Linked DNA regions of Homo sapiens. The protein of the gene in region 2 purifies or fractionates together with the protein of the main gene of each other region. This does not show direct contact. Each region holds a gene or a part of one and is shown on either strand. Other genes may lie near its edges.

Evidence for each region.
Region 1: the proteins of UNC119 (region 2) and LIMK2 purify together in Homo sapiens (affinity purification with mass spectrometry; 4 studies listed by BioGRID and IntAct, with this or other methods). This does not show direct contact.
Region 3: the proteins of UNC119 (region 2) and RSPRY1 purify together in Homo sapiens (affinity purification with mass spectrometry; 4 studies listed by BioGRID and IntAct, with this or other methods). This does not show direct contact.
Region 4: the proteins of UNC119 (region 2) and RNF34 purify together in Homo sapiens (affinity purification with mass spectrometry; 4 studies listed by BioGRID and IntAct, with this or other methods). This does not show direct contact.

The regions. Positions count from the first base shown.
Region 1 is NC_000022.11:31,207,402-31,215,298, reverse strand, and holds the start of LIMK2 (LIM domain kinase 2), read right to left. Parts: upstream 3,002-7,897; 5' UTR 2,891-3,001; coding exon 2,875-2,890; intron 1-2,874. UniProt on the Homo sapiens protein: Serine/threonine-protein kinase that plays an essential role in the regulation of actin filament dynamics. Acts downstream of several Rho family GTPase signal transduction pathways.
Region 2 is NC_000017.11:28,546,163-28,549,624, forward strand, and holds the end of UNC119 (protein unc-119 homolog A), read right to left. Parts: intron 2,544-3,462; coding exon 2,430-2,543; intron 1,940-2,429; coding exon 1,837-1,939; intron 1,688-1,836; coding exon 1,515-1,687; coding exon of another isoform or gene 1,462-1,514; exon of another isoform or gene 1,248-1,461; coding exon 1,135-1,247; 3' UTR 546-1,134; downstream 1-545. UniProt on the Homo sapiens protein: Involved in synaptic functions in photoreceptor cells, the signal transduction in immune cells as a Src family kinase activator, endosome recycling, the uptake of bacteria and endocytosis, protein trafficking in sensory neurons and as lipid-binding chaperone with specificity for a diverse subset of myristoylated proteins.
Region 3 is NC_000016.10:57,189,329-57,196,373, reverse strand, and holds part of RSPRY1 (RING finger and SPRY domain-containing protein 1 isoform 1 precursor), read right to left. Parts: intron 316-7,045; exon of another isoform or gene 1-315.
Region 4 is NC_000012.12:121,417,118-121,424,117, forward strand, and holds part of RNF34 (E3 ubiquitin-protein ligase RNF34), read left to right. Parts: intron 1-386; coding exon 387-794; intron 795-3,124; coding exon 3,125-3,217; intron 3,218-3,459; coding exon 3,460-3,661; exon of another isoform or gene 3,662-3,874; intron 3,875-6,268; coding exon 6,269-6,459; 3' UTR 6,460-7,000. UniProt on the Homo sapiens protein: E3 ubiquitin-protein ligase that regulates several biological processes through the ubiquitin-mediated proteasomal degradation of various target proteins.

The DNA.
Region 1 (7,897 bases), on a different chromosome or scaffold from region 2:
TGAATGGAATAACAAGTGAAAGTTTAAGTCCCACTTCCTTCTCAGACTCCATAGTCAACTTCATTCTGCTTTTTGTGCTACAGAGAGGAGGAAGCACTAAACTTGAAGTTGGAAAATATGAACTCTGACCACCACTGCTCATTTAGCTATGGAACCTTGTCATTTCTGGGCCTGTCTCCTCATCTATAAAAAAGCCATACTTGGCTGGGCATGGTGGCTCACGCCTATAATCCTAGCATTTTGGGAGTCCAAGGCGGGTGGACTGCCTGAGCTCAGGAGTTTGAGACCAGCCTGGGCAACATGGTAAGACCCCGTCTCTAATAAAAATACAAAAAATTAGCTGGGCGTGGTAGCACTTGCCTGTAGTCCCAGCTACTCAGGAAGCTGAGGCAGAAGATTCACTTGAACCTGGGAGGTGGAGGGTACAGTGAGTCTGGATCGCGCCACTGTACTCCAGCATGGGCAACAGAGCAAGACTCTTCCTCCCCACCCCCTACAAAAAAATCAAAAAACCATATTGACCTCCCAGCTCCAAGGCTCAAAGGCACTACATGCCTTCCTACCCTAGGGCCTTTTTATGCTGTTTCCTCTGCCTGGAATGCTCTGTGAGCTTTTTTTGCCAGGCTAACTTTTACTTATCTCCAGGGGTCAGCATAAACTTGCATTTTTAAGAAAAGTATTCCCTTCAAAAAAAAAAAAAGTAGAGGATGGGCATGGTGGTTCATGCCTGTAATCCCAGCACTTTGGGAGGTTGAGACAGGAGGATGGCTTGAAACCACCGTGGGCAACATAGTGAGACCCTGTCTCTACCAAAACAGAAAAAAAAGTAGAGAAAACCCTCACCCCTGGTGCACTCTTACAGCACTTATCTCAATTGTTTACCTTAACTATTATAGCATTTATTGCAATTGTTACAATTATTTATTGTCCATCTCTAGGATTATTAAGCACCACAAAGCCAAGAACTATGTCACCACTGTACTCAGCATTTGGCTAAGTATATGACACAGAAGAATCCAACAAATATTCTTTGAATGAAAGAAAGAATGCATAAACTAATGCATCTAGAGGCTTTATGCCTCTAGACTATTGTACTGTGAAACCTTTCACAATTTTCTAAGAAACAGGGTTCAAGACAGGCAACCTATATTACACAGCTGTTAGAAAAAGTTACTGGAAATCGGCCGGGTGCGGTGGCTCACGCCTGTAATCCCAGCACTTTGGGAGGCCGAAGCGGGCGGATCACAAGGTCAGGAGTTCAAGACCAGCCTGGCCAATATGGTGAAACCCCATCTCTACTAAATATACCAAAAAAATTAGCCGGGCGTGGTGGCGGGCCCCTGTTGTCCCAGCTACTCGGGAGGCTGAGGTAGGAGAATCGCTTGAACCCGGGAGGCAGAGGTTGCAATGAGCCAAGATTGTGCCACTGCACCCCAGCCTGGGCGACAGAGCAAGACTCCATCTAAGAAAAAAAAAAAAAAGTTACTGGAAATCATTCGAGTTGAAGGACTCTGTAAGCTTAAAAAAAATCTTTTTTAAGAGACAAGGTTTTGTTTTTAAGAGATGAAGTCTCGCTATATTGCCCAAGCTGGTCTCAAACTCCTGGACTCAAGCGATCCTCCTGCCCTGCCCTCCCAAAGTGCTGGGATTACAGGCATGAGCCACCACGCCCAGCCTAAAAAAATTTGTTTTAGGCATTTCCACCCCTAGCTCTCTCCAGAAGTCTGTTATCACCAGTGAAGAGAAAATCCCATGCTCCCTTGCTGAGGAAGTGACCCACTGGTAGCCCAGTCCTTGCATTCAAGATGAAGGAAGTGACTGTCCACAGACGGAAAGCCAGGAAGCAGGGGGCAGATAGCCAGCCCCCCTCCACCTCAATACCCTCTTGCCGCCTCTCCAAAGCTTCTGGACGCTGACCCTGGTGGACCCAGAGGTGGGCCACCCACACAGGTGGCTGGGAAACATAGGAGACAGAAGGTTCCTACTGCTGGGGGAAAAGATGGGGAAGGCAGGAAGCTGCAGGGTGGTGTGTGAGGTGGCGGGGAGGTGACTGCAGGTGCAACTAACCCAACTCTGAAGCTACCCTTCACCCTTAGACAACTCTTCCTTCCAGGAGGTGTTTGGCCGAATCCCTCTAGTCTTTAGTCTAGAGAGGCCAAGGGAGCTTCCACAGGAGGACTCAGAACCCCAGGTGGCCTACTTTCGCCACCTGTAGCAGAGATCTTTGGGCCCCAAAAAGAATGGTCCGATCTCTCCTTACCCTTAGTCCTGTCCTAAACCTCAAGGGGCTCCATACTCCCTTATTTTCTGCAAAGAGCTCCCAGCCCCGGGGGACTCCCAGACACCAAGATGCCCGCGAGAAGCCTTGGGTCTTGGCAGGGAAGTCACATCCTCCATTTCCCTCAGAAAACCCAGAACCCGGGGTAACTCTCCTAATTGTCCTGAACCCTAGAGGATCCTGTACTCCTCAAATTCCACAGAGCTTCCACTATAAGAGAACCCCATGCTTTTCAACTTCCTTAAAAAGGGTTAATTTGGGGGTCTGCGGCCGCCAGGTCCCTCCAAAAAGCTGGATTCCTGGCAGACCCAGAATCTCTTCCTCCCCGGGACCTCAACTCGCGGGAAGCCTCCCAACCCGCCTGCCCCTCGGAGCCCTCTGTCTCCAGGATGCCCTGCCTCCCCATTCCCGGAGTCCCACCCTCCAAATGCCTGGGGAGCGCTGTGCCCACCCCGCCTCCCAGCTTTTCTGAGGAGCTCGGACCCACGAGGACCCAACCAGCCCGAAACCCCCGAGAGACAGCCGGTTTCCCTCAGGCGCCATGGAACCGGACTTCGGAGATAACAGCGGGACAGGGCGGAGCAGCCCTTCCTTACCCGCCAGCGCGGACATGGTCCCGGGAGCGCGGAAATGGGGAGGAGGAGGCGGGGGACACAGCAGCTCCCCTCAGTTCCCTACAACTCCCCTCAGCTCCTGCCGCCGCCGCCTCAGGCGCGGGAAGACCACAGCCCCAGGCGCGAACGGGATGCACCGCCTACGGCGCCCTGGGAGGACCAAACCACACCTGGCACAGGGGACTGCCCGCCGACGCCCCGCCCCGCCGCTCTCAGGCCTCGCTCCCGAGACGCGGCCCCGCCCCCTGGCTCTGGCTCGGGCTCTGCAGCGGCCCTGGCGCCCCCTAGTGCGAGCGGCGTCCCCTCGAGGTGCTCCCGCCGGTAAGGTTGATTCTGCGGGGGCCGGAAGTCTCAACACGGATGACAGTCCGCACCCATCTAGTCGCCCTCATTTACAGATAGGGAAAGTTAAGGATCAGAGGCTAAGTTCGACTACATTGAAATGGCTTCGCTCATTAGGAGGAGAGCCGGGATGGGAGCCCAGGCCTGCTAACTGCCAGTTCAGAGCTCTTTCCAGTAGTGTTTGGAATCAGGAATATTACAATGGAGGAGCCAGGTCTATCCCACAAACAGCTTTGAGGATGGACTTTTCTTAGAAGCTTCTAGCTCAGAGAAACCACTTCTCTGCGCCACTATGAGTAAGCTGACAGTAAATAATCTCTAAGTCAAAGACAGTTGGAGGCGACCAACCAGCATTCCAGGAGCAGATCCTCAGCCAGGCCAATTAGGTTTAGCGCAGGACGCTGGAGCTTGTGCGCCGCATTGGAAGACGAGCACTCCCCTGCAGGAACATGGGCCTACCATTCCCAGGTCTTCCAACCTTTCAAAACATGCCAAAAATCCAGATATTTAGGTGAAATTTGCCACTTTTAAAAAATGTTGATAGCATCAAAAAGTTCTTAAAATGCCATGTAGACCAAATGAAACACACCTGGCCACTAGATTTGCCCTGTGGGCTGCCAGTTTACAATCTTCTATGAGGAGGAGGGATTACAGGACTAAGAGTTAGGACAGCTGACTGGGTTATGGCAGCTGCTAGCTGGCTGAGTAGCTTTGAGAACCACTTCCGCTCATTAGGTTTGGAAGGAGATTGGGGTCCTCTGTGTGATTAAGATATTAATACATCATCAGCCAGGCCAGCTGGTCCCTGATGACCCACCCTCCCATCAGATTCTCTCACGCTGGGTCTTTCACAATTGTCATTTCCTTACATCAGATTTAGATCACAGGAAACATGTCCAAATGACCAGAAAGAGGATGGAGCCCAGGGAAATGGATTCTGTCCCCTCCACCCCCACCCCTGACCAAAGACAAAGTTCAACCCAGCTGCCTCTGGTCCCAGCAGTTGGGTAAGCAAAGGCAAAGGCAAAGACAAAGGCGAGCACAATTCTCTTCCTTCCTGCTCTAATTCAAACCGGATGCCGGTCAGATTTTTCTCTTCTGGGTGTGGCAGGTGGCTCACGATGTCCTGAGTGTGCACAAAGTGCTGGGGAGGAGGGCTCTGTCCCATTTCCGTTAATTCCTGGGAACTCTTTTCAGTACTCAGTTTTGTAGTTTCTGAGGAAATCATTATAGTAAACACAAGATTGTGTATTGAATTAAAGTGACAGGAATCCAGAGACTCTCCTGACAAGCTGCCTCATGGCTAGCAAACAGGGGACAGGGACTTTCCCCATCCTTCCTACAGAAAGATGTAACACTGTATTTTCCCAGGCAACAAAGCACTGGCATCCTGGGAACCAAAACCTCCTGGGTGTCTTCCCTCTCCCTCCGTTCCACACCAAGGCACCCAGGTCTATCTCTTCTCCCTCCTCATTCTCTCTCACATTCCACTTCCTCCTACCTCCAGCCTCATGGTCTTCACCAGCAGGGAGCTGGGGAATAGCCAAGTCCCCCAAGTTCCTCCCAGGGAAGTTCAGGCGACTCTGAGAAACACAAGTTGAAAATGTAATGGAAGGGAATAGCTTTCTATAGAAATGCTATAGCCAAGAGATATATTTTTAATATGGACCCAAAGAACATTCCAGAAATCACTTGTGAACTCAAGGGGGACTTCTGGAGGGTAGAGAAAGCCTGGGCAGGGAGTAGACCAACTGAGTTTCAATAGCACCCAGGTTACCTGTCCACAGTTTGTTTCACTGGCCATAGCTTGGTCAGTCCCTAGGGCCAGATCCTGCCAGCCGCCTCACAGTCAACTCTCTGAGCCTAGGATCCTGAAACCTGGACCTTGAAAAACAACTCAAGGTTCTGCCCTCTTGAAGGTACTGGTCCACTGGTACCCAACCAGACTTGCCCAGTGTCACTTCCACTTGCTTCAAACTGAGCCAGTCTCTGCCCTCCCTGAATCATCCTACCCAAAACTGACTGTGTTAATCTTCCAAAAGTATGTTTCTGGACCTGTCATCTCTCTGTTCAAAACCCTTCAACAGCACCCCACTGCCTACAAAATAAAAGCCAAACCAGTCCTCATGAGCTGACTACATCTCACCCTGCGGACTTGTCTCCCTATTCCCTTCACTCCAGGACTCTGCTTTTTCCTGAGCACATCCTGCCTTGCGCCACCTGCCATTCCTACAACAACCAGCTCTCCAGGTTCTCTGTAATTTTGTGCCCCACTCTGCCCAGAGTGCAGTCTTGTTTCTCAACTCTAAATGATATAGTGGCATCTGTAACATCACAAAGTAGGACTACCAGACATTAAGTGCCTCCAGGTAAGACGCACCAAGTATATACTATCACCTATGACGTAGTCTTACAAAACAAAAATAATAAGCTTGAATCTGGTCAAGCTTCTAGATCTAACAACCAACTTACAGGAAATACATGGAGAAGAGGAGCTTAATAACATTTCCATGATGCAAATAGCAAAAATGATGCTGTGGGAAATGCAACAGGACAAATAACCTAGTTTCTTTAACAGATAAACTGCAGAGTAGAAAAAATTTCATAGACAGGCCAGGCAAGGTGGCTCACCCCTGTAATCCTAGCACTTTGGGAGGCTGAGGCGGGTGGATCATGAGGTCAGGAGCTTGAGACCATCCTGGCTGACATGGTGAAACCCCGTCTGTACTAAAAATACAAAAAAAATTAGCCGGGCGTGGTGGCGGGCACCTGTAGTCTCAGCTACTTGGGAGGCTGAGGCAGGAGAATTGTGTGAACCCAGGAGGTGGAGCTTGCAGTTAGCCGAGATCCCGCCACTGCACTTCAGCCTGGGCAACAGAGCGAGACTCTGTCACACAAACACACACACAAAAAAACAAAAAATTAGCCAGGCATGATGGCGGGCGCCTGTAGTCCCAGCTACCAAGGAGGCTGAGGCATGAGAATCACTTGAACCCGGGAGACGGGGGCTGTAGTGAGCTGGGATCGCATCACTGCACTCCAGTCTGGGCGGCAAGTGAAACTCTGTCTCAAAAAAAAAAAAAAAAAAAATTCAGAGACAAATAATAGCAATGTATGAAACTGATTTGGATCTCAATTGAAACTACACAAGTTATGAGACAACTAGGGAAATCTGAACAATGTGATTGGATATGATGATTTTAAGAAATTTTTTAAAGGTATTTTGCTTTTTTTTTTTTTTTGAGATGGAGTCTTGCTCTGTCGCCCCGACTGGAGTGCACTGGTGCGATCTCGGCTCACTGCAACCTCTGCCTCCCGGGTTCAAGCGATTCTCCTGCCTCAGTCTCCCGAGTTGCTGAGACTACAGGCGCCTACCGCTACGCCTGGCTAATTTTTTGTATTTTAGTAGAGACGGGGTTTCACTATGTTGCCCAGGTTGGTCTCAAACTCCTGAGCTCTGGCAATCCGCCCGCCTCACCCTCCCAAAGTGCTAGGATCACAGGTGTGTGCCATCGTGCCCGGCATATTTTGCTTGTTTTTAAAATACTTGAGATGCATATCGAAATACTTAATAAATGACATGACTGGGGTTTGTTTCCGAATAGTTCAGACAGTGGGAGAGGAACAGCGTGCGGGAGGTATAGATGCAACAAGACTGATCTGAGTTGATAGTTACTGGAGTTGGGTTATGGCTACATGGAGGCTTTATTGTCCTGTTCTACTACTGTTTTTTTTTTTTTTTCCCCATCGAAAACAAAAACCTAAGGCCGGGCATGGTGGCTTAAACCTGTAATTCCAACACTTTGGGAGGCTGAGGTGGGAGAACCTACTGAGACCGGGAGTTCCAGGCTGCAGTAAGCTGTGATCACACCACTGCACTCTAGCCAGGGCACCCGAGTAAGACCCTGTTTCTAAAAGGGTCTGTTGCCCTGGCTGGAATGCACTAGCATGATCACAACTCACTGCAGCCTTGACCTCCCAGGCTCAGGTGATCTTCCCACCTCAGCCTCCCTCCCGGGTAGCTGGGACCACAAGCATGCACCACTGTGCCTGGCTAATATTTTTTATTTTTGTAGAGATGGAGTCTCCCTGTGTTGCCCAGGCTGGTCTCAAACTCTTGGCCTCAAGCGATCCTCCCACCTCAGCCTCACAAAGTGCTGGGGTTTGTAGGTGTAAGCCACCATGCCTGGCCTAAAATTAAAATCTTTCAAAAAAAAAAAAAAAACCTGGTCTTTTCTCATTGGGCTTATGAGCTCCTGAAGTTCCCTCACCTTTGCATTCCCCACTGTATCTTGGTACTATTCAATTTGATAACTGTTAGATCAAAATCTAAGAGGAAGAAAAAAAGCTCTTTTCAGAGGAATTACTTGTAGCTCTGGCATGTTGGGAAGGCTGAGGCTGGGCCAGATTTGTAACCTCAGCAACATCTTCCATCTCACACTACACCCTGCTACTAAGGAACCTTAGGGAGGGACACACCTTCTGCTCGAGAGAGAGGACTTGGCTGACAGCCCACCTGCCCTGTTACTAAACAGATGGAGAGACGCTGACAGTGAGTAACCTGATTGTTCTAAAGGCTCTGATAAGTGACAAGCTAAGCTCTATTGTGGCAGCTTGTCACTTACGAAGCTCAGGAATGCCATGTACTTGTCAGGACTGGGGC
Region 2 (3,462 bases):
TCTGAGTCTGGGGTGGGGGTGGAGGCTGAGGGCAGTGTTATGTGCAGGGCTACCCAGGCATGGGGGCTCCCCAAGGCAGCTGAGGGCAAGGAGATGGCTCCAGGCCTTAGCCAAAGCCCTGCCACCGTCTATCATGAGGGCTAAAAACACAACCCAGTGGTCCTAGTGGCCTCTGGGGTTCAGGGAAGGTAGCGTGGAGGACAAGGCCAAACCCCCACCCCCCACACCTTCCCCTTGCACCCTGGAGTTCAGGGCCTTTGTTTCGGCCTCTGTTCTGCCAGGGTTGGCTCTGACTTTGGGCCAAAGCTTCCCCTCTCAGGGTCTGGGTCTCCTTCATCACAAGAAAGACCCTCTCCAGCTCCATCATGTTCTAAATGCTGACTCTATATGGTGTCAGGGTACAGAGAATCAGGGGACAGGAAGACTAAGGGGTGAGAGTGCACTGGAATGTGGGAGGTAGGAGAAATTTTTACTGCCTTAAGCACATTCCTGCCTATCCCTGCTCCCTTCTTTGCCCATACACACAGAGGCTGGCCACACCAGAGAACAGAAAAGGAAAAAGTTTATTGAAAACTATATACAGTTGGTCCAGCTCCTACCATGGGCTGCAATCTCAGCCAGTCCCTCCCACACCTTAGGCAGTGTCTTGGCCCCTCATGGGGAGGGATGGGGCTAGGCCTAGGGCCCAGACTCCCTTGGGTGGCTTGGCAGCTGGAGCCCACCGTGGATCTTTGTAAATTTACAACTCTAAATGGCCTGAAGGTAGTGGGCAGGGGACAGGGAATGGATCCCTGCCTGATCTAGTCACAGCCTTGATAGGGGAACACTATTCTGAAACTTGGGCCCAAGTAGGGCCCAGCTAAGTTGTCCGGAAGTCCTGACTGCTCCTCTCACAGGCCTTCCTAGACGTGGAGGCAAACAGCCTCCCTACGACCCCACCCCATGTAGCAGGCCGCATGGGCTTCATGGGCTTGACTGGGGACACCAGGTACCCTTCCTCCCAACATTGACTCAGGGTCCGGAGCTCCTGGAGAACTCCCCAAGCAGAGGACTTGGGGTTGAGGGGTGAGCGTTGGGGAGGTCACAGCTCCCAGCCCAGAACTGGAGCCTCCTGGGGTCAGGGCAGCCGTGGGGTCAGGGTGTCCCGCTGTAGGAATAGTCTGCTTTATTGTGCATCACCAGCCGGTCATCCACGAAGTAGAAGCTGTCAGACTGGGTCTCATACGGGTGGCGGATCATCTCGCTGACTGCAAGAGAGGCCCAGCCAGGCCGGGCAAAGGTCAGGAGCTTGAGTCCCGCCACTGCAGGGGCTTCAGGACTGGGGTACAGGGACAGCCAAACAGCCTGAAATATCCCCAGCCTCTTTCTCTACGGATGATATGGGAATGGTGGCAGACACAGAAGAGCCCCAGGGTGGGGAGAAATGGGATCAGACCCACAAGTCCCTCTCCCTCCCGCAGCTCAGTCTCTAGACGCCCCCACTTCCCCACTCCCAGAAGACCCTGCCCGCGCACTCAGCTCCTCGGAGAGAGGGGGGAAGTCGTAAATGTGCTCGCAGGTGTTCTTGCTGCTGGGGATGCAGAAGCCAAAGTGGAAGTCGAAGCTTTTGAGTAGCTGGTTGCGGAAGTAGTGCCTCTCGATCATGCGGAAGTTGTTGACAGGCTTGTCTCCCACTGTGAACTCCACCCTGAGCAAGAAAAGGAGGCAGGGCTAAGTCTGTCCTTGAAGTCAACTAGCCAGCCAGGCTCAGGACAGGCCACCCCTACGAGAGGCTGAGAAGGGCCCACTCACACCCTCTCCCTCACCCCCACCACCACCCATAGCCCAGCGACTCACGTGGCTCCCACCTGCCTCAGGCGGAGGAAGGCAGGCGTGAACTGGTAGCGGACAAAGCGCCCAGCATTGGGGTCCAGGTCCCGCCGGTTGATGGGCAACCGTTCTGCAATGTACCCCAGCTGGGGCTCAGTGGGCTTCAGGCTGGGCCCTTGTCCACCCAGGGTTCTACCCTTGGGTCCCCATCTATCTGATTTTTTTTAAACTCCCCAAGAAATTCCGGGGCACACTGAGGGCTCAGACCATTGGCCAAATAGTGCCACCTAGGGGTTCTAGGTCTGCATGTTCCCAATCGCCACTGTGCTTCCCCGGGCCACAGGATGCTGAGGCCTGGGACCCGTAGGACTGCAGTTCCCAGAGAGCCCTGCAGAGGGCAGGTTGGCAGGGACCGAAGGGGTAGGGCTGACCTCGCAAGATGTCCAGCCTCAGAAACATATGGGAAGGAAAAGAAAGGGCCCCCCTGCCTGCAGACTCCTGAGAATGCTGGGGTCCAAGCCCCAGCTCTGTGGACTCCTCTGTGGCCCAAGGATTCCCTGGGCAGCCCACTCCGCAGCTCCTATCTGCCTCCCCATCAATGGCCCACCCAGCCCACTCACCTGAGACTGGGGGCTTCTTGATTTCAAAGAGGACAGTGCCTGAGTCCATGTCCCGAATCTTAAACCTGACAAAGTCGATCTTGTAGATATTCTCCTCAGGGGAGCAGAGGTAGTCTAGGGGAAACAGGCAGCTGAGCAAGGAAGGGGCCGCAAAGCCCCTGCTGCCAGGTCAGCTTGTGTGGGACCCCAGAGTAGCTACCATCTTCTCATCCCTGGGATCACTGCCCTCTGGAAAGAGGGACCTCAGTCCCTGCCCTTGGGGTACACCCCCAGTGTGGAAGAGACATAACTCCGCCATGGGGATCTAACAGGGGATAAGGAGTGCCATCCTACTGGTCTCTGGGGGCCAGGGAAGGGCAGGGCAGAGAAGGGTAGAGGACAAGGCCACCTCCTGAACACTCTCTCTCCCACTCTGGAGTTGAGGGTCCTCATTCTGGCCTCCGCTCTGCCAAGGCTGGCTAGATGACTTTGGGAGAATTAGGTATCCAGCCTGGTGGGAGCCTCTCTTCTCATATGGGAACAACTTCCTGCAGTCTGACCTGTCTCTTCTACTGCAACTCAGTGTATCAACTTCTCTGGTACCCTGCCTTTGAGAACCACCTGTAAAGGGGGCCACACAGCTCTGTCTTGGGAGAGTCACTGTCCTTCTCTGGAGGATACTCCTACCCTCACCCCACAGCTGCCCCTGGCATGACATCTAGATGTATCAGGTGAGGCTGATGTTAAGGGGACTTTCCCTGATATGGGTGGGGCTGGGGCAGGTGAACAACCCCTTCCCTATTCCTCCTCTCCTCCAAACCCCCTCCTCTCAGTAAGAAGCTTACACCAGCCCAGCTCCCTTAAGCAGCTTAACCAAAGCTCTGCTGACTCAAGCCCAGAGCCTGGGATATGGCAGGTGGGAGGAGGCCAACTTTGCTCTCATCCTTTGTTGATCTCCAAATGGGAGGAAGTCTTAGCAAGCAGAGAGAACCCCCTTAGAGGTCATTTACGCAGCCCTGGCTATGAGCCACCACCATGGAGAAAGTAGTCCTGG
Region 3 (7,045 bases), on a different chromosome or scaffold from region 2:
CTAAAGGGCATTTCTTCTTGGGTCAAAAATGTTAATTTCCTTGTCCAGTAAAATGAACTGAGACTATCTTTGAATGCAGTCTTTTGGAGAGGTCAGCCTAAAAAGCCATTAGAATGGTTATATCCATAAGTGACATGTACAGTACATATCAACACAAAGGAAAAAATGGCTCCATATATTTCCCATGAGGTCCATCTTACGAAGCATCAAAATGAACCTAAATGATACGCTGCTTAAGGATATCATCAAGGGTTAAGAGACTGAACGGAATAGAAAATGAGTAAGATGAGATTATATAAAGGCAACACATCTGTAATACCTATATATATATATATATATTTTTTTTTTTTTTTGAGATGAAGTCTCACTCTGTCGCCAGGCTGGAGTCCAGTGGTGAGATCTCGGCTCACTGCAACCTCTATCTCCTGGGTTCAAGTGATTCGCCTACCTCAGCCTCCCGAGTAGCCAGGACTACAGGTGCGTGCCACCACGCTCAGCTAATTTTTTGTATTTTTAGTAAAGACGGGGTTTCAATATGTTGGCCAGGCTGGTCTTGAACTCCTGACCTCATGATCCACCCACTTCAGCCTCCCAAAGTGCTGGGATTACAGGTGTGAGCCACCGTGCCTGGCCAATACCTATATTCTTTACCTTAACTTCAAAGACAACATTAGCTGGTGAAGTCAACTTTGAGACAAAAAAAAAAAAAGCTAGTCACACAATTTAAATACACATCTGTGACAAACATCAACTGATTTAATAATTTTTATCACTGGATGCCAGTGCTTAGTAGAAGGACTCTTCTTACCACCTAAGTGGCAATACTTTTAATATGATTATACTTTTTTATTTTTATTTTTTCAGACGGAGTTCCACTCTCATTGCCCAGACTGGAGTGTAATGGTGTGATCTTGGCTCACTGCAACCTCCATCTCCCCGGTTCAGGCGATTCTCCTGCCTCGGCCACCCGAATAGCTGGGATTACAGGTGCCTGCCACCACGCCTGGCTCATTTTTGTACATTTAGTAGAGATGGGGTTTCACCATGTTCACCAGGCTGGTCTTGAACTCCTGATCTCAGGTGATCTGCCCACCTCGGCCTCCCAAAGTGCTGGGATTACAGGTGTGAGCCACCATGCCCAGCCTAATATTATACTCTCGATAACAATTTTGCTGCAAGAGCATAATTATGATCGAATATTTCCTTTGCAAATCTATTTCTCTGAAGTGTGGTATTATTAATTTTGATTCTTGCCTTTTTAAAAAAGAAACTAAAGACTATTCTCTCCATTTCTATATTATTTATTAGATTTTTACATTTTACATGTTTTTTCATTTTTCTTGGGGGTAAATGAAGCACCTAACGCTTTATATTTTTTTAAAGCTGCTCTGAGACAAAAAAAAATAATCAAACTTAGGGTCTTGGTAAGCTTGGTGTTAAAGCAGTAAGGTTCTGGTACTCACTGTCTTTATAAAACACAGACCTCTACCATCATAAACAGCTCACCATGGAGACATCTGGCCAACTAGTCTAACCCTCTCTGACAAATGGTCCAGGAATCAATGATTCATCTCTTCAAATATTTGCTTGCATTCAGCCATAGTACAGATCAGTGAGAAAGAACACTTTCTTTTCTTTGAAAATAGGACTGCAGAATTACACTGCCTAGGAAGGAAAAGCTGATTACAAGAGTGACCATAAAGAAGAAAAACCAGACTTTGGGCACTAAATTACTATTGTTATAATCTTCACCTTATCATTCCAAAATAGTGTTAGAGGATGTGACTTTTTTTCCAACCCTCCCCCACAAAGGCTAAGTCAAATAGCATGAATAGCAAAATGTGTAACATCCTGAAAATTTTAATGATGTTCTCTCATTAGAAAATGTTTTCGGATTTTTCCCTAAGTGTGTTAAAGAGATAGCTTCTATCATCACATTTACTCCCCACTCCCAATATTTTATTATGAAATTTTCCAAACATACAGAAAATTGAATTAGAGTTCACTGTAAACTGTGAACTATATACCCACCACCTAGATTCTACTACTAACATTTTACTAAACTTGCTTTATCCCCACCACCTAGACTCTACTACTAACATTTTACTAAACTTGCTTTATCGCTATCCATCTCTTATCCATCATTAATCCATTCAGTTTTTTTTACATATTTCAAAGTAAACTATAGGCATCAGTATACTTTCTCTTAAATAATTCAGCATGCATATCACTAATTAGACTTCAATAAACTTCAAGTTTTTAGGAGTCGAATTTACATACACTGAAATGTGCAAATCTTTTTTTTTTTTAAACGGAATCTCATTCTGTTGCCCAGGATGGAGTGCACTGGTGTGATCCCAGTTTACCACAAACTCTGTCTCCCGGGTTCAAGTAATTCTCCTGCCTCAGCCTCCTGAGTAGCTGGGATTATTGGCACATGCCACCACACCCAGCTAATGTTTGTGTTTTCAGTAGAGATGGGGTTTCACCATGTGGGCTAGGCTGGTCTCAAACTCCTGACCTCAAATGATCTGTCCACCTCGGCCTCCCAAAGTGCTGGGATTACAGGCGTGAGCCACCGCACCCGGCTGAAATGTGCAAATCTTAAGCACAGTAACGTGCTGAGTTTTATCAAATGCATATACCTGTGACTCAAACCCTATCAAGATAGAGAACATTATCTAGAAACATATTTGCTTAAAAAAATACAAAAATTAGCCAGGCACAGTGGCGTGTGCCTGTAATTCCAGCTACTTGGGAGGCTGAGGTGGGAAGATCACTTGAATCCAGAAGGTGGAGGTTGCAGTGAGCCGAGATCATCCCACTACCCTCAAGCCTGGGTGACAGAGCAAGACTCTGTCTCCAAAGAAAAAAAAAAAAAAGCCTGCAGAACACCCCAAAGACCACAATCTTCTTACTGAAGATTGTGTTTAAATAGGGAAAATCTCAAGTCAACAATACTGATTTGGTAATGCATGAAGATTACACTTGCCAGCTGAAACAGAAACTACCTAAAGATGTTTCAACAAGAGTGTTTCTGTCTTTAGACTCTAAAGCCTCTGGTATTTCATTGGGGAAGGTAAGAAGGGGGTAGATTGTGAAATATTTGGTTGGAATTTTACTTTTCCCACAAAAAGAAAGGTTGTCTTGATGAGGCGTTTTTACTTGCCTCCCAGATGTCCAAAGCTATCTAACCGTAGGTTTAGGTCACACAGAGTACCATTAACTCCTGAACTGTAACTGTCAAGAAGTCTGGGAAAAGCACTGGATGATTCTGACATTTCCCTTATGCACTGAGGATCTTTAAGAAAGCACACCTTTGAAAGTAGGTATTTTTTTCTGGTTGAAAGACTATCTGAGCAGGGCATGGTGGCTCACACCTGTAATCCCAACACTCTGGGAGGCCAAGGCAGGCAGACAGCTTGAGCCCAAGAATTTGAGACCAGCCTGGGCAACATGGCGAAACCCTGTTTCTACAAAAAATACACAAATTAGCCAGAGTGGCGGCTTGGACCCTATAGTCCAGCTACTGGGAAGGGCAGTGGGAGTGAGGGGTGGGAGGATCGCCTGAGCTGGGGAGGTCGAGGCTGCAGTAAACCATGATCGCACCACTGCACTTCAGCCTAGGAGACAGAGTGAGACCTTAAAAAAAAAAAAAAAAAAAAGAGTCTCTGGAAAAACCTTCCTCTAAAAAGTTGAGAGCTTTTTTAACCTAGTAGCAGTGCATCTGTGGTCAGAAAGAATTACAGAATATAGTCCTGACCTAAAATGGTACAAAGGAGAAAAGACAAATCCTTTCAGCATTCAAATAATTTACTAAAAAATAAAATTTAGGCCTAGGATAGAGTAAGGAATTTCCGGAAGCAAATAATAGTAAAAAAGGGGAAGTAAATAATCCCTGCCTGAAATCTTAAGGATTGAAAAATTTGCCTTGGACTCCCAAAAAATACTAAGGAAGAATTGAGGTAAATGCTTATGACGGTTGCAGTACAGGGAAGAAAAACAAATGTAATATTCCGTAGTACTTGTGGTTTTCCCCCCAGGAGGCCAAATAATAGGAGATCATGTGTTATTCAAATATACACAAATCTGAAGGAAAAGGATTTTTCTATTACAGAAAACTCTCTGCTCTTAAGAAAAGCAAATAAAATATATAAGCAGCATGAATATCAACATTTTCCTTAATGATGTCTACTTTAAATGATGTCTAAAACACTCATACTGCATACTCATTTGGATACTTATTAGACCCTAATATGTATTCAATAAATATCTTAGGTGAATTTATTCTAAAATCTGTAACATAAAGTCTCTCCAAAATATTTACCATTTTGAAAAACTGAGACAACACCATTCAATAACTATATATCCAATGCTTATATGGCAGGCAGTGAGGAAAGACGGAAAAAGGTCCCTCATGCTCCTGACAAAGGGAGCTGGGGTTAGGGACAAACTTAGCTCCCTACCCAAAGACTACAGATAAAGCATCTACTAGAAGGAGGCCTCTTGTTCCATCAGTTTTCCAGTGTAAAAGGAACTTTGGTAACACTGAAGTACCTCTGTGTGAGCAAGTTTTTAGGTGACTATACAAATCAGCAATAGCAAAAGGGGACTAGAGAATCTATCTTTGCATTGTAACACATTTATGTCTTACATTATAAGCCAAAATATTGTTGGTATAAATATTCCTGCCCACACAATGAAAAGTAAACAAAAAAACCTATAAATTAAATTGATAAAGATGAAGTTAAATAAAAATTCTAATAAAAAAAGAGGAATCATGATGAAAACTGACATTATTTTGAGACAATTCAGATGATGCACCCCAAACTAAGCATACTTCCTGAATACTGCAGGAATCCCCATTCTGCATATGACATGTGAGAAGCTTGTATTGGTGCCAGGTTTCCCAGGACAGACTTCCTGGGCGAAAAAAGTATTAAGAGACCACAGTAAACTCCAATATTGTTCTAGTTTTAGGTTATGAATACCATGTTTTAGTAATCCTTAGTAATTCACTTGGTAGGTTATTAATAAGTAGCCCTTAGGCATACCTAAGTATGAACAACTATGAAGCAATAAAAACTTAAAAAAACAAACAAACAGTGCTATATTTCCCATGTGGAGGGACTGGGCAGAAACCACATCTTGAGAATCACTGCATTAAGGGAACACAAGAGCGAAAACAATTCTTCAGGAGGTAGAGGGGTAAGAAAAAACTAACACTGAACATTAAACTATGAGGTAATATACTTGCTGAGTAAGGTATTTCAAACCTTCTATTTGAGGTACATAGGACCTATGAAATTACGCCTGGAAACTATAATTTCAAGCAACAAGAAAGCTATGTGCAGAGTTCATTCCTTAACAAATTTAAGGAGTACATAAATTCCTTACTATTTCAAATGTATTCTCAGTTTTCAAAAGCTCAGAAACAAAGCGGAATGTTCTCTAAGAGGCCACCACTATTTATAAGATAACTTTTCCTGATTTAACCTTGTATATACCACACATTTATCTAAAGTTACTACTTTTACATATTTAACCAGCAACCACTCCCTTTTGGAATGGACACATTTGTATGTTTTCTCTACTCACAAAGGTTGGCAAGAAAAGGATTTCAAAAGCTGACTTACTGAATGATAAACCAAAGGGAAATATTCACTCCTTTGCACTTCTAAAAGTTGTAAAAGTCCCCTCCAAAAGGCTGTTGCCCAAGTTACGGCATTTACTACTTCGTGATTATTCTGCTTTTCAATTTTCTAATTTGAATATCAGGGAAAAAACTACCCAAATTCAATGATAACTGCCTTGAAAATGCCAAAAGCTTGAAGAGAAGCTAAATCCATAGTTTATTATCCCCAAATAATTCTTTTGAAATAGATTGCTGGTTCCACTGTGTTTCCCATTTGTGGTGACTACTGACTTTCCACTTATTTTGCAATCCTGAGACTATCACACCCCACTTTACAAGTATCCTACTAAAAAATACAGAACATTTCCTATTTATTTATTTGAGACAGGGTGTTGCTCTGTCACCCAGGCTGGAATGCAGTGGCTCACTGCATCTTCAACCTCCCAGGCTCAAGAGATTCTACCACCTCAGCCTCCCAAGTAGCTGGGACTATCTGCATGTGCCACCACGCTGGGCTAATTTTTGTATTTTTTTGTAGAGATGGGGTTTTGCCATGTTGCCCAGGCTGGTCTTGAACTCCTGGGCTCAAGTGATCCTCCCGCCTTGGCCGCCCAAAGTGTTGTGATTATAGGTGTGAGCCACCATGCCCAGCCATAACTTCCAATCTTAAGTAGTGTAATAGTGATTACTACCTTCAAGAATTCCTAACATTTTCTCCAAACTATATAGAGTGTGAAAGAAAGCTGTATTTAAAAAGATGCAAAGGGATTTCCCACTTCATTAGAACAAATTACTTCATTGTTAAGGAAAGCATATACAATTCTCAACAGACTAAATTAAGCTCACGAGGCCAGGCATGGTGGCTCACACCTGTAATCCTAGCACCTTGGGAGGCCAAGGTGGGTGGATGGCTTGTGCCCAGGAGTTTGAGACCAGCCTGGGCAACATGGCGTAACCCTGTCTTAAAAAAAGTGCAAAAATTGGCCAGGTGTGGTGGCTCGCACCTGTAGTCCCAGTTACTTGGGAGGCTGATGTGGGAGGATCACCTGAGCCTGGGAGGTAGAGGCTTCTGTGAGCCGTGATTGCACCACTGCACTCTAGCCTGAGAGACAGCATGAGACCCTGTCTCAAAAAAAAAAAAAAAAGAAAAGAAAAGAAAAAGAAAAAACAGAAAAAAAGAAATACAGAATAATTGTTTGTTAAACTCTTGACAAAACACACTTTTTTTTTTTTTAGCCTCCAGGCCCCACAGTGCTACATAACTCAGATTTGTTGTTTTTACCTGATTCACTACAGATTAACACACTATTATACAAAATGCTAAGTTTTTATTTCCCTTTGATACTTACTAAATGAAAAGTTATTTTGCTGACAAAAGCAGAAGCCCACATAGAGTATGCTGGTATACCT
Region 4 (7,000 bases), on a different chromosome or scaffold from region 2:
TTTTGTCTCCTGCTCTTTAAATGGAGGAAATTGTTCATGTAGGAAAAGACCAGGAAGTGTGATTCTGCTTTCTGCTCTGTGTGGTTCAAGCTCTGTTTTGTTAATTACATGTTTATACCAAGGGGTGGAAAGGTTTTAATTCATTAACACAAGAGTGTGTTTTTCTTAAAGTCCTATATTAGAACTTCTGTGAATCCAGACTGCCTTGGCAATGAATATTTTGATTTTCATGGCTTTTGAAACATGAAAATACCTCTGGAAATAGTCTGGTGCCACTGGGGACTTCACTAAGAACTAAAATTAAATTTTAGTAGAAGGCAGAAAGAAAACTCATGCTTTCATAATGGTTTATATCTTGCTGTCATCAAATGCTTTTCTTTCTTCAGCATGTTTGCTGTGACTGCAAGAAGGATTTTTGCTCCGTTTGTTCAGTCTTACAAGAAAATCTCCGTAGATGTTCTACTTGTCACTTATTACAAGAGACAGCATTTCAGCGCCCTCAGTTAATGCGACTGAAGGTGAAGGACCTGCGGCAGTATCTCATTCTGAGAAATATACCCATAGATACTTGTCGTGAGAAAGAAGACTTGGTGGATCTAGTACTGTGCCATCATGGACTAGGCTCTGAGGACGACATGGACACAAGCAGTCTGAATTCTTCAAGGTCCCAGACTTCTAGCTTTTTTACACGTTCGTTTTTTTCAAACTATACAGCCCCCTCTGCTACTATGTCTTCGTTTCAGGGAGAGCTTATGGATGGAGACCAAACATCCAGATCTGGAGTGCCGGCACAGGTACGAGGGGGTAACTAATTACACCCAGGGCCCGGCACGCTTATTCTTGGCCGTATATGGTGGGGCCTTTAGTGCTTGATGACTTCTGATAAACTTCAAGTCATGTGCTGGAGTGAAGCTTCCACACCCAGCTGAACTCTGCACTTAAAGGCTGTCCTGATGTATAGTGTCTGCTGAGGTGCTAGGTGGCTCCAAAGTCTGCTGTCTGAAGGGTCCCAAAATAGCTCATCAGTCTCTTGGCCTTAGTTAATTTCTCTGTCTTACACAGTTAGACACTAACTGTTGAAGAAATGGCTGTGAAAAAGTAGCACATACACATTTGTAGTGTTATGTGTTAGTGCACGTGTTTCAGTGACCACAGAAAACAATCAGTAGTGTAAGTTAGCCTAATGCCCATTTGTCTTGCTACAGTGAAATTGTTCTAATTTAGTTAATGAAAGAGCCATCTGAATTAGTGAAAAAATGTAGTTATTTACTAATTGTAATTAATAATATTGTCCCAGTGAGGTCCTTGGACATCCTGATTGAATAACATGTAAAGGCTTGTAATTAATATTTACTTGTACGTGAGTGATTCTAAACTGCTGAAAGAAATGTTTTGAACAAATTTTTTCACGCTTAATTTTCTTCTCTGAAGAAGGGGGTTATTAAAAGTAGAGGAAAGCTGGATGCGGTGGTGTGAGCCTGCAGTCTGATACTTGGCAGGCTGAGGCAAGAGGATTGCTTTAGTTCAGGAGTACGAGGCTGCAGGTGTACCATGATTGCAACTGTGAATAGCCACTGTACCCCCAGCCTGGGCAACATAGCAAGACTTTTTTTTTTGTTTGGAGGCAGAGTCTCACTCTGTTGCCCAGGCTAGAGTGAAGTGGCGAGATCTTAGTTCACTGCAACCTCTGCCCCGCTGGGTTCAAGCAATTCTCCTGCCTCAGCCTTCCGAGTAGCTAGGATTACACCCCAGTTAATTTTTGTATTTTTAGTAAAGATGGGGTTTCACCATGTTGGTCAGGCTGGTCTCGAATACCTGACCTCAGGTTATCTACCTGCCTTGGCCTAAGTGCTAAGATTACAGGCATGAGCCAACCGCGCCTGGCCAAGAGTGTCTTTTAATTAGTAAATGAATAAATGCAGAGGGAAATTTGGTCTAATTGCCTTCTAGATATAGTCCTGTGTCCTCTAATAATGTTTTGGTCAGTGATAGACCACATACACGGCAGTGGTTCTGTAAGATTATAATACCATATTTTTATTGTACCTTTTTTGTGTTTAGATATGTTTAGATACACAAATACTTATTACTGTGTTATAGCTGCCTACAGTATTCAGTACACTAACGTGATGTACGGCTTCGTAGCCGGCCATGCCCTATAGCCTAGGTGTGTAGCAGGCTGTGCCATCTAGGTTTGTGGAAGTACACTGTGATGTTCGCACAATGACAAAATCGCCTAAGGACACATTACTCAGAACGTCTCCTAGTCGTCAAGCAACACATACTGTAGTCGTAAATTAGATAAGTCCAAGCCAGGAGTTTTATTATTCTCCCAAATGAGAATTGGCATATTTATGCTGCAAACATAAGGCACAGCTGACTTACATACCCCTTTTGGGTATACACCACCATTTGGGTGATGTGGATTGTTGGATGCTACAGTATGGTGCCTGGCAATCAGGGTGGAATATTTGAAATTGGGAACCGACCTAGCTTATTGGAGAGCTATTGTCAAATATAGTCAAAAGAAAATATGTGAAGGAAGGTACATAACCCAAACTGAAGAGATTTGTGTTTTCTAAAGTGTTCTGATTGAGAAATTTTAAAAACTAGAATTAGCCTCAGCCATCAGTGAAGTCTAGAAAGCCTTCGTTGGAATTAGATTGTCTAAGTACGCTGTGGTAGGACTGAGATCTTTCAAATCAGATGCCCCTGATGCTTGGGCTGACCCATCAGAGCTTTAGCTTTTTTCTGTCTGCATCTTACAGGCTCCAGTTAAACTAGCCATTTGCAGGTACTTTGATAATGACACAGTGCTGTCCCATATCCTTAATGGCTTTGGCATTCCATTATGGGACCTTCCTGAGAGAGTTAATACTCTGGTTAGATTTTATAACTTTACACACACACAGGAATTTGTGTTTTGAGCTAACTTTATGGAAGGTAGGTTCTTCATGCAATTTTGTAGGGCCCAACTTTTTGGAAGGGTCAGCAGCATTCTGAATCCAAAGATGTGCATTATGCTGGCTTTCTGGTCATCATGGGGAGCATCAATGACAAGGTTTTCTCTAGTGATAAATACAGATTGATTCCTGACCTAATCAGATACGTTGTATAAGTGTAGGTACAAAGTGAAATCACTTCAGCAAACACAGAAGATGATGATGACGACGATGATGAGGATGATGATGATGAAGAAGAAAACGCAGAGGATCGGGTGAGGCCACCTATAAAATTTGGTTTCCCTGACATGTCAGCCTGACAGGAAGGGACAGTGCCCTGTGGACATTCGCTAGATTAGTACAGGATGTTTCTTCTGGTTTGAATGTAGGACAGTATACTGAAACACTTCTAGGACTGCTGAGATGGCTGGGAGAATATTCAGGGCCAGTGATGAGTTTAGAGTGGGGAGGGTCTGGACTTATGGGACCAGGGCTAATGGATGCTCTGTGGTTTCAGAACCCCGGGCTCTCCAAGGAGAGAGTGAGAGCTTCACTGTCTGACTTGTCAAGCCTTGATGATGTGGAAGGAATGAGCGTGCGCCAGCTGAAGGAAATTCTGGCTCGGAATTTTGTCAACTATTCTGGCTGTTGTGAAAAATGGGAACTGGTAGAGAAAGTAAACCGGTTATACAAAGAGAATGAAGAAAACCAAAAGTCCTGTAGGTTTATCTTTTCATTTTTTCCCTGTAGTATTTTTCCTTAGGCTTTTAAAAACTGGGTTGTTTTTGTCACAATTAAGTCAAATTTATTTTTGAGAAAGCTGTGTACCATTTTACTGAGTATCAGTTAGTTACATGAGCCTGTTTATAGATCTGGAAAGGAGTAACTTCATTATGTGATGTTCATTATGGCTGCGAGACCACCACTGCCAAGTGAGTTAGAAAATTATTCAATTTGGTTTTTCTTACTATAATTAACTATTTGTTACAACCCTAATTAAATTCCTCGTCTCTGTAAAAATGCTTATTTTCTCACTAATGCCTTTGGCCGGCCAGTACCTTGGTTCTCTCAACTTTTAAATCTAACAGTAGGGGGAAAATTCCCTATAGCCCAGATGTTACATAGTTCTTAGCATCAACTATCTGTAGATTTCTGTGTAAGTCACAAAAAGCTGAGGTTAAGAACTTCTGAACTAGGCTGGGCTTGGTGGCTCACAACTGTAATTCTAGGACTTTGGGAGGCTGAGGCAGGAGGATCACTTGAGCCCAGGAGTTTGAGACCAGCCTGGGCAACATAGAGAGATCCCATCTCTAAAAAAAAAAAAAAAAAAAAAAAAAAACCAAAAAAACCTGGTGTGGTGGCACCAGCCTGTGGTCCCAGCTACTTGGGAGGCTGAGGGGGGAGGATTGCTTGAGCCTGCAGGGAGCCGTGGTCATGCCACTGCACTCCAGCCTAGGTGACAGAGCAAGACTGTCTCAAAACAAAACAAAACAGAACAAAAACTTCTCAACTATACATTGATGAAATTTGGCACAGAAATTCTTCCTCAGCTGGTAACACGATCAAGCCACGGAACATTTATGGACAAGAAAAAATAATTCAGTTGTATTTATTTTTTTCTTTTTAATTGTAAAAAAAATATATATGTACTTAATATTTTTAAATTGAGACAGGGTCTCACTATGTTGCCCAGACTAGTGCTGAATTAGGCGTGGGCCACCATGCCTGACCCTCAGTGGTGTTCAGACTAACAAATCTTATGTTCCTATCTAGCTTAAACAGCCCTCCCATCATTAACTTTTATCATCTTGAGTTTTGTCCTTTAAAAGCTGGTTATAATACAGCATTTGTTGATGAACAGGTTTATGCCCAGAATATGCACAAAATATTTTGGCAATCCTACTTCAAAGATGATGTCACAGTGGTAGATGCAGGAATCTTCATCCTCAGAGCTTTCAGAGGTCGTAGGCTGCTGGCTGGGAAATGGTTTTCTGGCAGTGAGGGGAGAAGTCAGTTGACTTCATAAATGTAAATAGCAACTATGTACAGTGCACAACGATAATGCCATTCCCACCCTTAAGTACTTTGCGGCGTAGGATATAACATGGTTGTTATTATGACAGCATGGTTTCCAGTGTCTTTCTCCATTAACTCACTGCATAATCTAACCCTAGTTCAATCTCTGGCTTGGGTGGAACACACATTTTGTTTTGAGCACAGCTGGCATCTTTCCTAGCTTGACTGGCTCCAAGTCACTACCAAGATTGTTCCCATATCCCTGACAAGATACTGGCTCCTCTGCTTTCCTAAGTTCTAAAGAGTGGGAAGGAACCCTCCACACAGAAGGAGAGACCAAGGCCCACTCTGATTTCATCTTGAGTTGCCTAGTGCCTTCTCCATTGGCATATCTGCCATCTCATCCCATAGATCCTTTCTCCCCAGGTCCACACCAGTAGTCGTGGGCCATGAACTAAGACCCCAGATCACAAGAATCTCTCCCCATGAATGGCAGTAAAACATTTCTCTTAAATCTAGAGACTACTGACCTTTCAAGCTTGAATTCCTGTTCTGTTCCAACTATTCATGATTCCCTTTGATCTCCTCTGACCTGTAGAAAGGGAAGCACCCAAATCCATAGCCCTATGGCCAAATCTCAGGCTGGGGTTAACTTTTTTTTAACTTATTCATCGTCTTTCTTATTCACAGACTGGATTTTCTCAGATGTAAAGGTGGGCCAAGAGCCAGGACGGCCCATCTCTTTCAAGTTAGACTTCAGCAGGGCCAGGAACACAGATGGCTTGAGATGATTCTAAGGCTAGGGAGGGAAGGATGCACAATTATTCCTAACTTTCCTAAGGGGGAACTAAGGCTCCTTTTCCTACTGAGATGAGGCTCCAGAGACTGTGGTGTTCCCAGGGCTACAAAGCTGGGGCAACTGAGTTAAATTCCAATAGCATCCTGACTCCAAAGCCCATCTACAGAAGACCAGCTGAGGGTTTCTTTTTCTAGTTACAGAAGTAATATATCCCTATCACAGATGTCTTGAATTAGACAAAGATATAAAATAGAAATACATAGCTAACATTTGTTGGGTACGTCAAGCATTTTATTCTTTACAAAACCCTGAGGTATAGCTTTTATCATTGCCATTTCTAGTGGAGAGAACCAAAGTGCAGAGAAGTTGGGATTATTTCTTGTACAACACTGGGGTGGCATTGGGCCTGCAGGGGTCATTCAGCAGGTGGCTGCTCAGCTTCGGACTGGGAGGGTGGCTGGCTGACTGGCCATGCCTGAAGCCGAGGCCTTAGCTCTCTGTTGCCTTTCAGATGGCGAGCGGCTGCAGCTGCAGGATGAGGAAGACGACAGCCTGTGTCGCATCTGCATGGATGCCGTCATCGACTGTGTCCTACTGGAGTGTGGGCACATGGTTACCTGCACCAAGTGCGGCAAGCGCATGAGTGAGTGTCCCATCTGCCGGCAGTATGTGGTGCGAGCCGTGCACGTGTTCAAGTCCTGAAACAGGCTCCCCTCACCAGGACAGTCACCCCCAAACTTGACCCCCAACATTTCAATGCACAGAAGGGACTGGAAAGTTATGTTCAAAGGCTGAAGCTATTTTAAAACATTATTTTGACTACTAAGTGGGGACAGAAAGATCCATCCTGAGTTGTGGAAACATTGGTCCATGCCGTGAGCCTGTCTGCCTGTGGACACGTGAGCTTCCCGGGCTCAGCTGGGCTTTATCACACATCCCGTGAACACTCATTGAAGTCAGCCTGTTTGCGCCATGTGGGCATCAGCCACTGCTGTCTTGGGAGGACACTTATCCTGTTCTCTTATTTCCCCTTCATCCTATTTTTAACTTAAACTGCTCAGATGTTTGAAACTTCTGTCCTCTTTGGATGAGATCAGTGTCCACAAGTGGCCGACATGGAACATGCTGAGCAGTGGCTCCTCTGAATGTTCACTTTATTAGTCATGTATATTTTAAATGCTAACATTTGATGAATGTAAGTTTCCACATTGTTGCTGTTTCTGCATTTAAACATAATTGGGAA